2 separate regions of the Homo sapiens genome follow, and region 2 is linked to region 1. Evidence: fine-mapped expression QTL. Tissue or cell type: whole blood. Region 1 holds a variant in brackets; the other region holds the start of a gene. All regions are shown on one strand. Distances are from middle to middle.

Region 1 (8,108 bases):
AGGGTGAGGTGGGAGGATCGCTTGAGCCCAGGAGTTAGAGACCAGCCTGGGCAATATAGTGAGACCTCATCTCTACAAAAAATTAAAAAAAATCAGCCAAGCATGGTGGCATGTACCTGCGGTCCCACTTACTTGGGGTGGGGGGAACTGAAGAAGGAGGATAACTTGAGGCTGCAGTGAGCTGTGATCATGCCACCGCACCTCAGGCAACAGAACTCACTGCACCTGGGCAACAGAGTAAAACCCTGTCTCAAAACAACAACAACAACGACGACGACAAAAAAAACCCAGATACCTGATAAAGGAATTACATCTCAAAACAGTCAAAGATGTCTTAAAACTTAATAAGAAAACAATTCAATTTTTAAAAATGAGCAAAAGATCTAAATAGACACTTCACCAAAGAAGATACAAATGGTATATAGCCATATGAAAAGATGGTGAACATCTTTTGTCATTAGGGAATTGCAAATTAAAACAATAAGATACTACAAACACCTATTAAAATGGCTAAAATATAAAAGAATAGTATAATCCAGTATTGGAAACCATGAAGAGCAACAGGAACTCTCATTCATTGTTGGTGGGAATGCAAAATGGTATAGCCATTTTGGTAGACAATTTTGCACTGACAAAGCTAAACATAAGCTTACCGTATGATACAGCAATTATACTCTTCAGCATTTACCTAAATGAGTTGAAAACTTATGTGTATGCAAAATCTGCACACAGATGTTTTTAGCAGCTTTATTCATAACTTCCAAAAACTGGAAGTAACCAAGATGTCCTGCAACAGGGGAATGAATAAACAAACTGTGGTATGTCCATAAGTAGAGTATTATTCTGTGACAAAAGAAATGGGCTATCAAGCTACAAACACATGGAGGAGGACCAGGTGCGGTGGTTCATGCCTATAGTCCCAGCACCTTGGGAGGTCAAGGCGGAAGGATCACTTGAGCCCTGGAGTTTGAGACCAGCTTGAGCAACATGGCGAAACCCCTTCTCTACAAAAAATACAAATAAATAAATAAATAAATAAATAAATAAATAAATAACTGGGCATGGTGGCATGTACCTGTAGTCTCAGCTACTCAGAGGCTAAGGTGGAAAGATAAATTGAGCCCAGGAGGTCAAGGATGCAATGAGCCCTTATCAAGCAGCTGCACTCCAGCATGGGTGACAGAGTAAGACCTTGTCTAACAAACAAACAAACAAACAAGAAAAGTCATGGAGGACCCTTAAATGCATACTGCTAAGTGAAGGAAGCCAGTCTGAAAAGGCTACATTCTGTATGATTCTAATTATGACACCCTGGTGAAAGCAAAACTAAAGACACCATTAAAATATCAGTGGTTAAGCCTCATTCTAGATGAGAATGGGTACTGCTGATCATGGTGTCCAAAAAACTTTATGTGGCTAAATTGAGACACAGGCTATGCTTCCATCACAGTACACATATTGCAGTGGTGACAATGAAACCTGTAACATTTGGTATGCTTATGATTAAAAAAAAAAAAAATCAGTGGTTGACAGAGGTTGGGGCGGGCAGGGGTATGGGGTGTGTGTGTGTGGGTGTGTAAGGAATGAATAGGTGGAGCACAGGCCATTTTTAGTGTAGGAAAACTATTCTATATGATCCTATAATGATGATTATGTCAAATTTATATATGACAACATAAATTAGTCAAAACCCATGAAACTATACAACACAAATAGTGAACCCTAATGTGCACATGGACCTTAGTTAATAATGTATAAATACTGGTTCATCAGCTGTAATAAATGTATCATACTAATGTAAGATATTAGTAATAGAGGAAACTGAGGGGTATGGGAAAGGAGTATGTGGGAATTCTAGATTTATATAAAAACAGCTCTAAAACATAAAGTTTATTAAAGTTTTTAAATGGAGCTTTAAAAAAGTAAAGTGAGGTCTCTGGAAATAGAAACATGTTCTGTGACTGGTAGCTATTGAACATTAAATTTATCATAAGAAACTATCTACTACCCAAAAAATTTTTTTTCAACCAAAAAATTTGTTGAGCATTTCAGTGCTTCCCTCTATTACCAAAATCTAAACATAATGAATTGAAAACAAATATCTGTAGGATTTTTGATTTCAGCAAAATTGTAGTAGGTAGCTAGCAGGAAAATATAGCAAATTATCAGAGGTCAACTTATGTCTTACTACCTGAATAAACCCTTTCCCTTTAACCTTTTTTTTTTTTTTGAGAAGAGTCTCGCTCCGTCACCCAGGCTGAAGTGCAATGGCATGATCTCGGCACACTGAAACCTCCGCCTCCCAGGTTCAAGCAATTTTCCTGCCTCTCAGCCTCCTGAGTAGCTGGGATTTCAGGCACCCGCCACCATGCCTGGCTAATTTTTACATTTTTTTGGAGAGACAGGGTTTCACCATGTTGGCCAAGCTGGTCTCAAACTCCTGACCTCAAGCGATCCACCTCCTCGGCCTTCCAAAGTGCTGGGATTACAGGTGTGAGCAACTGTACCTGGCTGCATACTTCAACCCTTATAATTCTTGTATTATTTTTCCAAATTTTAAGGATGAGGAAAAACACACAAATAAAAACATGTCTAAGGCTCTGGGAGAGCATAAATTAGGGGTGAAATGTTTTAGCAATTATTGATCAATCATTCCATAATTCCTGCAAAGGCAATGAGAAATTAAGCCAAAGGTGACTAAGAGGTAAATTAAGTCCCTATTCATCCACTAATTAATTATAAAATATTTATAAAACAAATAATGTATGTTTTAGAAAGTGGCTTCCAAAAAGAAAATAGATTTAAAGCTATAGAATGTAGCTTCCGAAATGAAGATAGGTTTCAAGAGGAATATGAACCAATAAACCAATGGTTCTTGAATTCTTATATGCAGATGCCCCTAAACCAATGGTTCTTGAATTCTTATATGCAGTGCCCCTAAACTAATGGTTCTTGAATTCTTACATGTAGATGAATGTGGAATGCCTGAAAAATCCAGATTTTGAGCCCTTTTGAAACAGAATTTCCATAAGCAAGGCTCAAGCTCTATATTCTACTAAGTTTCCTTGTTGTTATTCATGCATACCAAAATGTAAGCACCACAGACCTAATTTATAAATGTGGGAAATATGATAACCTACAGGATAATTATACTTTATTTGATAAAATAATAAAATGAAATATCTGAATGATTTATTTTCACAGATAATAACACAGAGTAATAAAAATGCATATACATTTACAGGTGAGAACCATATGAAAAATACTGGTACAGTAATTTCTTGCTGAAGAAAAACTGTCATTGACTTTAATATAATTTTTTTAAATGTTGGCTAATGTTGCTATAACTAGGTATAGTAACTAAAAGGATTTCCAACATACTAACAAACCACAAGCCTATTCCAAAAAGTGCACTTACTCTTTAAAGCTCCATATCAACTACAAACATCACTAATAATAAACAAAATTAATTATTATTTTGGTAATGTAACAATTATATTAAAACAGATAATTAGCTTATTTTTTCTTTTTTTCTTTTTTATTTACTTAATTTATTAAAGTTCTGGGATATGTATGCAGAATGTGCAGGTTTGTTACATAGGTATACACATGCCATAGTGGTTTGCTGCATCCTTCAACCCATCATCTACATTAGGTATTTCTCCTAATGTTATCCCTCTCCTAGCACCCTACCCACCAATAGGCCCAGTGTGTGATGTTCCCCTCCTCATCTCCATGTGTTCTCATTGTTCAACTCCCACCTATGAGTGAAAACTAGCTTATTTTTTCTACTAGATACCTGCAAAGAATAATGAAGAACTTGACAAGCAAAATTGACAAGGCTTGCTGTTGTTCCTCTAACCCATCTGCCATTTTCTGAACACACTGTAGAAGCTGGATCCTCAGAACCTGCAGAATATTATCAGGAAGCAGAGATATTCCTGGAGGCATATCATCTACCCTACAACAGAAAGGGAAAAAAATAAGAAGCCTGTTGAAATACAAGAAGAAAATCTCTGGCATTTAAATGAACTTCATTTTCAGCCCAAATCCTAAAGAAGCTCTTTTATTTATTCCAGATACTCTGTGCCTTCTCGTCTGCAACACAGATGTAGCACATGATGATTAGTAACTAGATTAGTAACTAGAAGTAACTAGAAGATTAGTAACTAGAAGATTATTAGAGCAGAGTGGTTTTTCTTATTTCAGAAGAGGCTTACTAAAGAGAGAGACAGACTATTTGATATCTTCAATTGTACTATTTTTAATGAAAATACTTAGAATAAATTATGTTCCACTTAAAAATACTATGTATACTAAATACTGTGTATAGCAGTGTGCATACCATTTCTAAAAGAAACAATAACTGTAAAGTAAAAATGAAGTATCTACATAACTAGTTTAATATGTCAACTGTTGGCCAGGTGCAGTGGCTCACGCCTGTAATCCCAGCACTTTTGGAGGC[C/T]GAGGTGGGTGGATCACGAGGTTAGGAGCTCGAGACCAGCCTGGTCAACATGGTGAACCCCATCTCTACTAAAAATACAAAAAATTAGCTGGTTTCATTGTATCATTTTACCAAATGAAGTGTAATTATCCTATAGGTTATCACATTTCCCACATTTATAAATTCGTCCCAGCTACTCAGGAGGCTGAGGCAGAAGAATCGCTTGAACCCGGGAGGCAGAGGTTGCAGTGAGCCAAGATTGTGCCACTGTACTCCAGCCTGGGTGACAGAGTGAGACTCTGTCTCAAAAAAAAAAAATTTGTCAACTGCTTTACTAAACATCATTGTTTTAGTATAGACTCCCCAAGCCATGTGATCAGAAGAGGGAGAAAAGATAACCAGTAAAAGGAAAGAAGAGAGATAAAAGGGTATTAAAAAAAAAAAAAAAGGAAATGTAGAGCTCTGAGCATGGGCATCAACAGAAGACTTTAAAAAGTAATATATCAACATTTTGTGACAAATGGTTTCTATGTAAGACTATATGGTTCTTTAAGGGCAAATGCCAACATCAGACATGAGTGGTTCCTCTGGTGTTTCTTTCATAATAAAAACCCATACCTGGATTCAACGTCTAAAGACATGGGTACTAAATCTCACCTCTGTAACATAGAGCTGATCATTTAACCTTTGAAGTTCCCTATGGACGCTGAAGTACCCAACCTCATGAAATAATAAATCTGTGTTCCGAGAGGAGATGGTTTTAAGTGGGCTACGCAGATGAGCACAAGAGATGTATGGAAGGTCACTCCTGTGGTCACACAACCAAAACCAGAGAATACCTCCCTCCCTCCCCATCAAAAATCAGTGGCTTAAATAAAACCCTATCATCTCTGGGGATGGCAGAAAATCCAAGGCATAACAAAGCATGGATTTTTTTTTTTTTTTTTTTTGAGATGGAGTCTCGCTGTGTTGCCAGGCTGGAGTGCAGTGGCGCGATCTCAGCTCACTGCAACCTCCGCCTCCTAGATTCAAGGGATTCTCATGCCTCAGGCTCCCGAGTAGCTGGGATTACAGGCACGTGCCACCACACCCACCTAATTTTTGTATTTTTCGTAGAGACGGGGTTTCACCATGTTGGCCAGGATGGTCTCAATCTCCTGACCTCGTGATCCACCCACCTTGGCCCTCCAAAGTAAGCCACCGTGCCCAGCTCAAAGCATGGATATCTTACCAGCCTGAAAGATGTGGGCTTAGAATCAAGGCATGTTGAGTCACAGATAATGAAAAAAATGCAGTATTTCTTATAAACCTGTTTCTGGCCTGAGGTCTATACCTGGTTGAAACCTATGCCAAATCAGCTAAGAAATAGAAAATTGGCTGGGCAACATAGCAAGACTTCATCTCCACTGGAAAAAAAAAAATTAACCAGGTATAGTGGTATATGTCTGTGGTCCCAGCTACTTGGAGGCTAAGGCAGGAGGATCGCTTGAGCCCAAGAGTTCGAGGTTGCAGTGAGCTATGATCATGCCACTGCACTTCAGCCTGGTTGAGACAGAAAGACCATCTCTCAAAAAAAAAAAAAAAAAAAATAGAAAGAAATAGAAAATTGTGACTGCAACTTCTCTCACTATTATAGAGTGTTCAAAGAGATTTTTACACCATACTTAAAAATTGCTCCTAACCTGAATGGGTAGACAATTCCTGTGCTGCCACAGAAGGCATTACAGCAGAGGGACCTGCAGAGAGAGGTTAATATTTCCAGGGAAATGAGAGATAGGAAATATCCTGGCAAGTCCAAAAGACTTGTGGAAGACCTGAAGACATTGACCTAAGGAGAAGGACAGTAGAAACACAACTGAAGGGGCCAACATCTTAGAGTTCATCTAAAAAATGGAAGTTATCATACAAGTAGTATGTTCTATCAATATTTAATATTCTGTTAATATTTTAATAAAACAGATACAAAATAAAATTTTAAACATGAATGAAAAAATACCCATTCTCATGTAGGTTGCCAGTACATGACAGGTGGTTGCCAATACTTCTACAGGCAACTACATGTCTACTTGTATGTGTTTGTTTTTTTTTTTTTGAGATGGAGTTTCGCTCTTGTTGCCCAGGCTGGAGGTGCAATGGCGCAATCTCAGCTCACTGCAACCTTGGCCTCCCGCATTCAAGCGATTCTGCTGCCTCAGTCTTCTGAGTAGCTGGGATTACAGGCATGTGCCACCACGCCCGCTAATTTTGTATTTTTAGTAGAGACGGGTTTTCTCCATGTTGGTCAGCCTTGCCACCACGCCCACTAATTTTGTATTTGTAGTAGAGACGGGGTTTCTCCATGTTGGTCAGGCAGGTCTCGAAATCCCGACCTCAGATGATCTGCCCGCCTCGGCCTCCCAAAGTGCTGGCATTACAGGCAGAAGCCACTGCATCCGACCTATATGTCTACTTTTTAAGGAATGGTAGAGCTTTCAATGTGAACTGCTGTGGTCTGAATGCTGGTATTCCCCCAAATTTCATATGTTGTAAACTAACTCCCAATGCAATAGTATGAAGAGGTGAGGCATTTAGGAAGTGATTAAGCCAAGAAGGCTCTGCCCTCATGGATGGGATTACTGTCTTTATAAACAGAGTGAAGGGAGTTGCCCTGCCCCTTCCTCTGTGTGAGGACACAGTATTCATCCCTCTGCTGTGTAAGGACACAGCAAGAAACAGAAGACAGGCCCTCACCAGACACCAAATCTGCTGGTGTCTTAATCTTAGACTTCCCAGCTTCCAGAACGGTGAACAGTAAATATCTACTGTTGTTCTTGGCCGGGTGCGGTGGCTCATGCCTGTAGTCCCAGTACTTTGGGAGGCCGAGGCGGGTGGATCACCTGAGGTCAGGAGATGGAGACCATCTTGGCTAACACGGTGAAACCCCATGTCTACTAAAAATACAAAAAAAATTAGCCGAGCGTGGTGGCGGGTGCCTGTAGTCCTGGCTACTCGAGAGGCTGAGGCAGGAGAATGGCGTGAACCCGGGAGGCAGAGGTTGCAGTGAGCCAAGATCGGGCCACTGCACTCCCGCCTGGGCAACAGAGTGAGACTCTGTCTCAAATAAATAAATAAATAAATAAATATCTACTGTTGTTCCTTAAAAAAAAAAAGTTTCTAGTTCTGTAATCTGCAATTTTTTTTAAGAGATAGGGTCTTGCTATATTGTCCAGGCTGGTCTCTAATTCCTGGCCTTAAGCTAGCCTCCCACCTTGGCCTCCCAAAGGGCTGGGATTATAGGCTTGAGCCATTGTGCCCAACCTATAAAATTTGAGTATCAACTGCCCTATTTTACAGGGGTCTCAAACCAGAAGGTTAATATGCATTTTCAGCTGTGAAATATAGAAAGATCTATAAAAATGTAATATATTTTAAACATGCTATCACTAAAGCTTCAGAATCTTTTCATAAGCCACTGTATACTAATTTCCTATCCCTTTAAGAAAAATGCCCAAATCTGAATGGAGCTCCCTAAAGCATGCCTATGATTAAATGACAATTATACTTTATAGTTACCTCTTCTTCAGCTTATGCTTAATATGAAGTATTGCTAGTATTTTTACACTGAGTAAAAGGCTGTTTAATTAACTATATGCAGAAAAATCTGAAGCACATAAGTAGTCACATG
Region 2 (8,108 bases), 180 kb after region 1:
TGAGCCAAGATCGCGCCATTGCACTCCATCCTGGGCAACAAGAGCGAAACTCCGTCTCAAAAAAAAAAAAAAAAAAAGTAATACATAAATTTAAGTGACATTTGTGGGTACTAAATTACAATAATATGTTCAGCTTTGCATTTTTTTGCCTTTAAAATTAATTTCAATTTTAGCGTGCCACTAAACGTATTACTGTAATAGTATATAAATGTATAAAGATCAATTTCTGTATATTCTAATAGGAATTGTATATAAGCAAAAATGAATTTTAGAAATTATCCTATTATTCATGTAATTATGTCATTCATGTTATTTAAAGGAAACCACAATGCAGACAGGTTAAGTACCTAGTGTGAAGGTATGTAACCAATTAATGGAGCTGTGCGACATACATCTGAGTAATAAAGACTACAGAGAAAGTATCTTGTTAGGTACTATCTGATACAAAGTTTAGAAACATGTCAAACAATTCTATGTATAGTTGGTGAAAGTGTAATAACATGGCTGAGACTTAATACCAGATGAAGTTCAGTGGTTTCAGGGGGAGGAAATAATTTTTAAAACGATGTCGATAACACTTCACATTTAAAATCATCATAATAATTCTAATTCTAGAATTGTGTCTAATTCTAATACTGTTTCTAGCTTTGCTTGAATAAACAGAAATGTAGTAGGGAAGAGACAGAATGTTTAGCTTGCAGTATCTAATTACTCATTTGGGTATCTGGGAAGATAGCTCTCCATGGCCCCACTGTCACTGACCTATAATGCTTCTCCTGACGTCTTCGGTAAAATCCAACAGATTACAAAGAAACTGGAATGCCTTGAAGAAATAGAGCTTTTTGTGTGATGTCAGATTCAATAGACCTCTAATCCTTAGTAAAACAGTACAAAACAGTAGAATAATTTTTAGTGTTTTCTAATATCAACTGAGGTTTTATTTGGGAGATTAACCAGAGGTTTGCACAAAAACAAAAGTGAAGACCATTAGTCTTTAAAGAAACTAAGACTCTAGGTTTGGATCCCATTTGTGGAGCCCTACATTCCAAGTCATCTAATGTTCTTGTCTAGTTAGCTTGTAAAAGTCTATACAATGGAGGAAAACCCCTTTTTTCCCCTTAGTATAAGTGTATTATATGTTGATAGAAAGGATAGAAAGTTAAATAACAGTTCAGTAAATGTACTTCTAAATGAAATTTAAAAGTACTTTAAAGGTGTTAAATTATTTCACTTTCTAAAGAGGTTTTATGCAACACTAAAATGTAATGACTGAGCTGCCTCCTTTTGTTAAGAGACTAGTGCAAGTAGAGTCTTGCTCTGTCGCCCAGGCTGGAGTTTAGTGGCACAATCCCGGCTTGCAACTTCTGCCTCCTGGGTTCAAGTGATTGTCGTGCCTCAGCCTCCCAAGTAGCTGGGATTACAGGTGCACGCCACCACATGGGGCTAATTTTTGAATTTTTAGTAGAAACAGGGTTTCACCATGTTGGCCAGGCTGTTCTCAAACTCCTGACCACAAGTGCTCCGCTTGCCTCAGTCTCCCAAAGTGCTGGGATTATAGGCTTGAACTACCACGCTCTTCCTAGTGCAAGCCATTTAAACATTGTATCCAACAGCTAAAGAAAGAATTCATTCCACAGGCATTTATGAAATATGAGAGACTTGACTCCTGTCCAGGAGAAGCATCAGCAGCTAGCTCTACATTATTTTCTGATACTATTCCTACACTGTGCCACCGTGTTTCCTTAGCGACTTGTGAAGAAAAAGTGATTATATGAAGTGTAAATACTACACTTCATTAATGGCTTGGAGATACTGTGTATCTTTCTGTAATTTTACCCAGTTAAGTGAATAAAAGCAACAGGCCCGGCCGGTAGCCATTATTCTGACTTCCAGGTGTGTTCCTTGGAGGACTTTAGTCGGCCTCAGATTGAGCTGAAGAAGATATTAGTTTACTGTTCTCTTGACTTAAAACTTCATCTTGTTGGAACAAACATTTTCTAAAATACCCCAAGAACTTTACTATGGGGCATAGTAACATTTGAAAGTCATTTCGCTTGCCACTTTATTTATTCCTTGGTGAGAAAGATAATCTGTTCTTTTCAGATATTTTATAATGTATCCTTCAGTTGTGAATTAGCTATCTTTGTTTCATTTCGTTCATTGATGGATTCAACATTCATTCAGGACCTAGTTTGTATTAGGCACTGTGCTAGGTGCTAAGGCTGCAGAAATGCGTAAGGGAGGAGCAGCTTTGAAGCAGCTCGGCACCTAATGGGGAAGACAGGCAGGTAGATCGTTACAGCCAGAGAGCAGTATGCCCCTTAGGAGAAATGCCTCATTTGGTAAGATTCAGGAAAGCCATCCCAAGGAAATAGGTCAATCACTCATGTTTGCCAAACGCTAATTTTTACCCTTCTGAGGAAAGCTGTAGACTCCTCAAAAAAACAAACAAAATTTTGCACATAATCTCAGGTATTTGCCTATTCCTTGAAATCCAAATATCTCAGGGTAAAAGTCTAAAGACATTTAATGTTTTCAGTCCAAATTAACCCTCTGTAGCTTGCCACTTTTCCTATTCTAAAAGTATAATTTCCAGGTTAAGGTGAGTATTTTGTACTGTTAATATTCCAGAACCTCGGCCGGGCGCGGTGGCTCATGCCTGTAATCTCAGCACTTTGGGAGGCCGAGGCGGGCGGATCACGAGGTCAGGAGATCGAGACCATCCTGGCTAACACGGTGAAACCCCGACTCTACTAAAAATACAAAAAACTTAGCCAGGCGTGGTGGCAGGCGCCTGTAGTCCCAGCTATTCGGGAGGCTGAGGCAGGAGAATGGCGTGAACCCGGGAGGCGGAGCTTGCAGTGAGCCGAGATCGCGCCACTGTACTCCGGCCTGGGCGACAGAGCGAGACTCCGTCTCAAATAAAATAAAATAAAATAAATTCTAGACTCACCCCATCTTTGTCATCATACAGATTTTAATTATCACCTCGAGTGTTAACCTTTTAATTCTTTGCTAGCCTATGTGTCGCAGTTGTAATTAATAATTCGTATTCTGCTGTTTTAGGAAAGTTCTTTTAAGTTTTGGAGTCACCTTTAAAAAGAATGAAGTTTGAATTTATTAAATTATCTCCTACTAGTAGTAAATAGTTTTGCCTTCCTTTTTGTTTTTTTCCTGAGACTTTCAGGATCCGGTTTTACCTTTTACTCTTGAAGATTCATCATAAACATTATGGATATGGATATGTGCATTTGAGATTGGTTATGAACGGTTGTTAACTTAGACCTCTTTAAACCTTTAACACGGGAGTTAAATACAGCGGGCGAACGCTTTCCGCCTAAGGAGCACTGGTGCTAAGGGGCCGCCCCAGAAGGCCCGGCAGGTCCGGGGGTGGGGGTGCTCGGAGGGAGCCGGGAGGGCCCCGGGCCAATGCCTTCCACTTCCCCACGCCTCAGAGAGCTCACACTCAGCTCCTCGTAATGTTCTGACCGGTTTGGTGTTTGTCATTTCACTTTATTAAGTAAAGAGGAAATCGGGAAAGGAGGAATAGAGAGGGTCCCCGAGTTCATTCAAGAGCAGACCGAGAGATGCTCCGATCCCGAGTCGGGCCGGTGGCGGGGTCAGGCCGGCGCCCGAGGGGGGCGAACGCGGACGCCAGGTCGCGCGGTTTAAATCTCCCGCCTCCCGCAGCGGGAGCCTGACACCTCCACGCACTGGTGCGGAGGGGCACTGGCTGCCGGAGGGCCGGGAGTCGGCGCGGGGCTCGCGGGCGGTGGCCGGAACGGGTGCCGGGACGGATCACCGTACGGCCGAACGCGACCCGAGGAGGCGGAAGAGCGGCGCCGGTAAGCTTCTGCTGCCTCCTGTCCGCCCCTATTCCCCCTCAGGCGGCGGTCAGGCCCGGAGACCAAATCCCGGGTTCCCATGGCGACGCCGGGAGGCGGGGGCGCGGCGGGAGGCTCCGGCCACACGCGCGCGCGCGCGGCTTCTCGGGGCCTTGCTGGCCTCCTCGGTTCTCTGGGGGACCCCGGCCGCTGCCTGCGGCCTTCTTCCAGGCGAGGCCCTGCTCGGGGTTCTTCCGGCCTCCCCCCAGGCAAAACCCGCAAGGAGCGGTTTCTGGCGTGGCTGGGTCCCCTGCGGCGGAAGGGCGCCTCCCGGCCACGCTCGCTGTAGTGAAGGAGCGCGGCAGCCTGGGGCTCGTTTGGGTGATTTCCCTCGGCGGTGGAGGTCGCTCCTAATAGAGGCGGCGGCGGATCACCCGAACAGCCTTCAGGTGCTTCCCTGCTGACCTCTTTTTAACGTGGTGCTTATTTTTATTTCGCTATTATTTTGTAATGGGAATGTCTTCCTTAGAAACTAATTGGCAACCGATGGATAAAAACAAAACATAGTAAATGTGCAGTTTGAGCTGAACTGCAGAATGCACGGGCCCGCGAGGGGCTCCGCGCACAGATCCTGCTCCTTAGGCCGGCAACCCGACCCCACGGCACAGATATGGCTCCTGGAAACGCGCGTCAGCTGGTCAGGTGCCCAGGTGATGTCAGTGGTCAGATACCTGATGCTCTAAGGAAGACGGAGAGGGGAAAGCGGGGAGTCCATCCTGGCAGCTCACCCGCGATGCTGGGGCGTTGCCAGTAGAGGGGGTGGAATCATTTTTCGTGTAATAGATGATCTTGATGCACACAGCATAAAAGCTGTTATAAACTATGGGTCTCTGTAAAATAGATTGTTGGGAAGGTAACATTTTTCCATGGTTTTGATTTTTCCCAAAAGTATTTATGTATTGATTTATTTGGTTCTGACTCAGGCGACGTACTGTAAGACGATATTACTTTAATCATCTTCACATCAGTATTTATGGAATAGCCACAGGTGCCTCATCCTTTAGTAGGAGTTAATTATACATTTACTGGCCGAGTAAACATCTCCGAATGGTATGTATGTATTTTTATGTGACCAAAATTTTAAATCGTTTAGTATTTGTTATCTGTGCCTATCATACCCAGTATTCTTTGAAATCTCTTTATTTAATAGTTCAAAATGATTGTTTATCTAGTCGTTGAAACAGCTATGTGGAAGGCAGTGTTCTAATTACCAGTTTAATTTTAGAGTTAGAAGGGTGCTCAGAGATCAGCCAGTCCAAAGAGGAAAAATTGCAAATATGAGAACTGGTGGAAAAAGTAGGATGCCATATTTTTATTATAAATATCATAAAAATATAAAACAAAGTTTATACCAGTTATGGAACTAGGACCAGATATCAAAATATTAGATACAAAATAGATAATATACTGTCTTGTTCTACTATACTGCCAAACTTGGTGATTTCATTGTGTGATTCTATATTTACATTTTTTCTGTACTTTTATACTTTAGCTTTTTCAGTACTCACTGCGCTTCCTTTAAAATTTTATTCTTTTTATATTCTTTAACAACAACAGATGGGATATGTGAGTTTTAAATATATCTGTAACTGGAAAGATTTCCTCGTTCGAAGTAGATTTTGTTATTTAATAATATTCTTATTACCCTCTTCCATTTTGTCTATTTTTCATTCATCACTTAAGTTTTGTGTTTTTTTCGGAAATCAAAATTTTCAAACTTGTACTTGGATCCAGTATTCACCATTAAAATTTAGTCACCTTCTATGTATCTCATTATTATTTTGCCATTATTGACTCACTTGCATGTAACACTAGGGTTTTAAAATTCCTTTTTTAATTTAGTTGAGATAAAAAAAGACTAAAATTCCTTTTTTAATTTAGTTGAGATTAAAAAAAAGACTAAAGTAACACAATATCTATATTTACAGAGGCCGACATTAACAACTGTTAACATTTTGTTGTATTTCTTTCTAGTATTTTTTTAGATAAGGAAATAAAACATTTCCAATAAAGCTGAAGTCTCATCCCACCCATCCGTTATCAGGTACTCAACATCATGAGTTGGTATCTGTGTTTTGTGTTTTTTAAATTATATTTTATACATGTCTATTATTGCATGTGTTTTTAAATTTTAAATAAGTTACATCATATTGCATATAGCCTGCACTTGTGTTTTTCACTCAGTGTTATTTTATTTTATTTTATTTCTTATTTTATTTTTTTGAGACAGAGTCTCGCTCTGTCGCCCAGGCTGAGTGCAGTGGCAGGATCTCGGCTCACTGCAAGCTCCGCCTCCCGGGTTCACGCCATTCTCCTGCCTCAGCCTCCGGAGTAGCTGGGACTACAGGCGCCCGCCACCACGCCTGGCTGATTTTTTGTATTTTTAGTAGAGTCGGGGTTTCACCTGTTAGCCAGGATGGTCTCGATCTCCTGACCTCGTGATCCGCCCGCCTCAGCCTCCCAAAGTACTGGGATTACAGGCGTGAGCCACCACGCCTGGCCTCACTCAGTATTATTTTAAAAATTGATTTGGATTGATATTGATAGTTTTAGCCACTGATGTATTTGTTTTAAATGTTTTTTGTTGTTGTTGTTGTTGTTGTTGTTGTTTTGAGACAGAGTCTTGCTCTGTCACCCAGACTGGAGTGCAGTGGCGCGATCTCAGCTCACTGCAACCTCTGCCTCCTGGGTTCAAGCGATTCTTCTGTCTCAGCCTCCCAAGTAGCTGGGACTACAAGCACATGCCATCACGCCCAGCTAATTTTCTTATTTTTAGTAGAGATGGGGGTTTTACCATATTGTTCAGGCTGGTCTCGAACTCCTGACCTCAGGTGATCCACCAGCCTCAGCCTCCCAAATTGCTGGGATTACAGGCGTGAGCCACCGCGCCCGGCCTTAATTGTTTTATATAGTATTCTGTCATATGAATATACTACATTTTTATCTGTATAGCTTTTTATTAATATACTTAGATTGTTTCTAGTTTTTTATTACAATGCTAAAATAAGTAGACATTCATTTGGTAAATACTTATTGAGTATCTACTGTGTGTCTTGCACTGTTTGCTCACAAACAGATGAAAATCTCTGCCCACATAAAGCTTTAAATACCTAGCGGTGGAATTGCTAGGTCATGAAGTAGCAGCATGTTTAGTTTTATGAGAAACTGCTAATCATTTTCCAAAATGGTTATACTATCTAATGCTTTCATCAGCAATATATGAGTTCCAGTTACTCACATTCTCACCAATTTTGGTGTTGTCAGTCTTTGTCATTTAAGCTATTACCATGGATGTGTATTGGTATATCATTGTGGGTTGAGAATTCATTCCTGCTCTTTTATCAAAAGTTTTTTTTTGTTTTTGAGGGGAAATTCAGATAATATACAATTAGCCTTTTTTTTTCTTTTTTTACTTTGGCTAAACAAACCCAAACAACCGTTTCGAAGTGTACAATTCAGTGATATTTATTGTTTTCACAATGTTGTGAGATCACCAGTTCTCTCTAGTTTGAAAACTTTTTCATCACCCCATAAAAACACCCCTTACTCATTAATTACTTGGTTTGTAGTTTTTCTGTTGCTGAGTGGTATTCCATTGCGCAGTATACTATAATTTGTTTATTCACCTGTTAATAGATATTCTAATTTTTGGCCATTTTGAATAAAGCTGGCAAGAACATTTACAGGTCTTTGGGCATATTTTTCATTTATCTTAGGTAAATACATAAGAATACAATTGCTGGATTGTGTGCGTTTCCAAGAAACTCAATTTTTTCTGAAGTGGTTATACCCATTTTATATTCCCACGACCAATGTATGAAGGTTCCAGTTGTTCCTCATTGTTGCCAGCACTTTGAATTGACAGATTGGTTGTTAGCAAGATCAAATGGGGGTGTGCTGATATCTCTTTGTGGTTTTAATTTTTGTTTCCCTGATGAATAATGTTGAATATATTTTTATGTGCTTAATGGCCATTAGTATACAGTCATATACTGCATAAAGGTGTTTTGGTCAATGATGGACCACAGATATAATAATAGTCACATAAGATTGTAATAGCATATTTTTATTGTACCGTTTCAGTGGTTAGACATGTTTAGATACACAAATACTTACCATCATTGTGTTGCAGTTGCCTACAGTATTCAGTACAGTAACATGCTGTACAGGTTTGTAGCCTGGGAGCAATAGCTCCTAGGTATGTGGTAGGCTTATAACATCTAG

The links. PIP is the estimated chance that this variant, and not a neighbour inherited with it, causes the effect.
Region 2: ICA1L starts here. The variant in region 1 is fine-mapped to the expression of ICA1L in whole blood (INTERVAL, PIP 0.95).

Annotation. Positions count from the first base shown.
Region 1 is chr2:203,045,667-203,053,774 of GRCh38, reverse strand. It overlaps NBEAL1 (neurobeachin like 1), which reads right to left. Exons shown (of 56, transcript NM_001378026.1): 4 at 3,800-3,961. It overlaps LOC124900525 (small nucleolar RNA SNORA1), which reads left to right and starts at 1,357; the gene lies at 1,357-1,490. The variant C/T (reference allele first, on the strand shown) is at 4,466.
Region 2 is chr2:202,867,356-202,875,463 of GRCh38, reverse strand. It overlaps ICA1L (islet cell autoantigen 1 like), which reads left to right and starts at 3,698. Exons shown (of 13, transcript NM_001288622.3): 1 at 3,698-3,845. WDR12 (WD repeat domain 12) reads left to right here. Exons shown (of 13, transcript NM_018256.4): 13 at 1-1,203. RefSeq lists silencers at 3,386-3,515, 3,576-3,625, 3,666-4,155.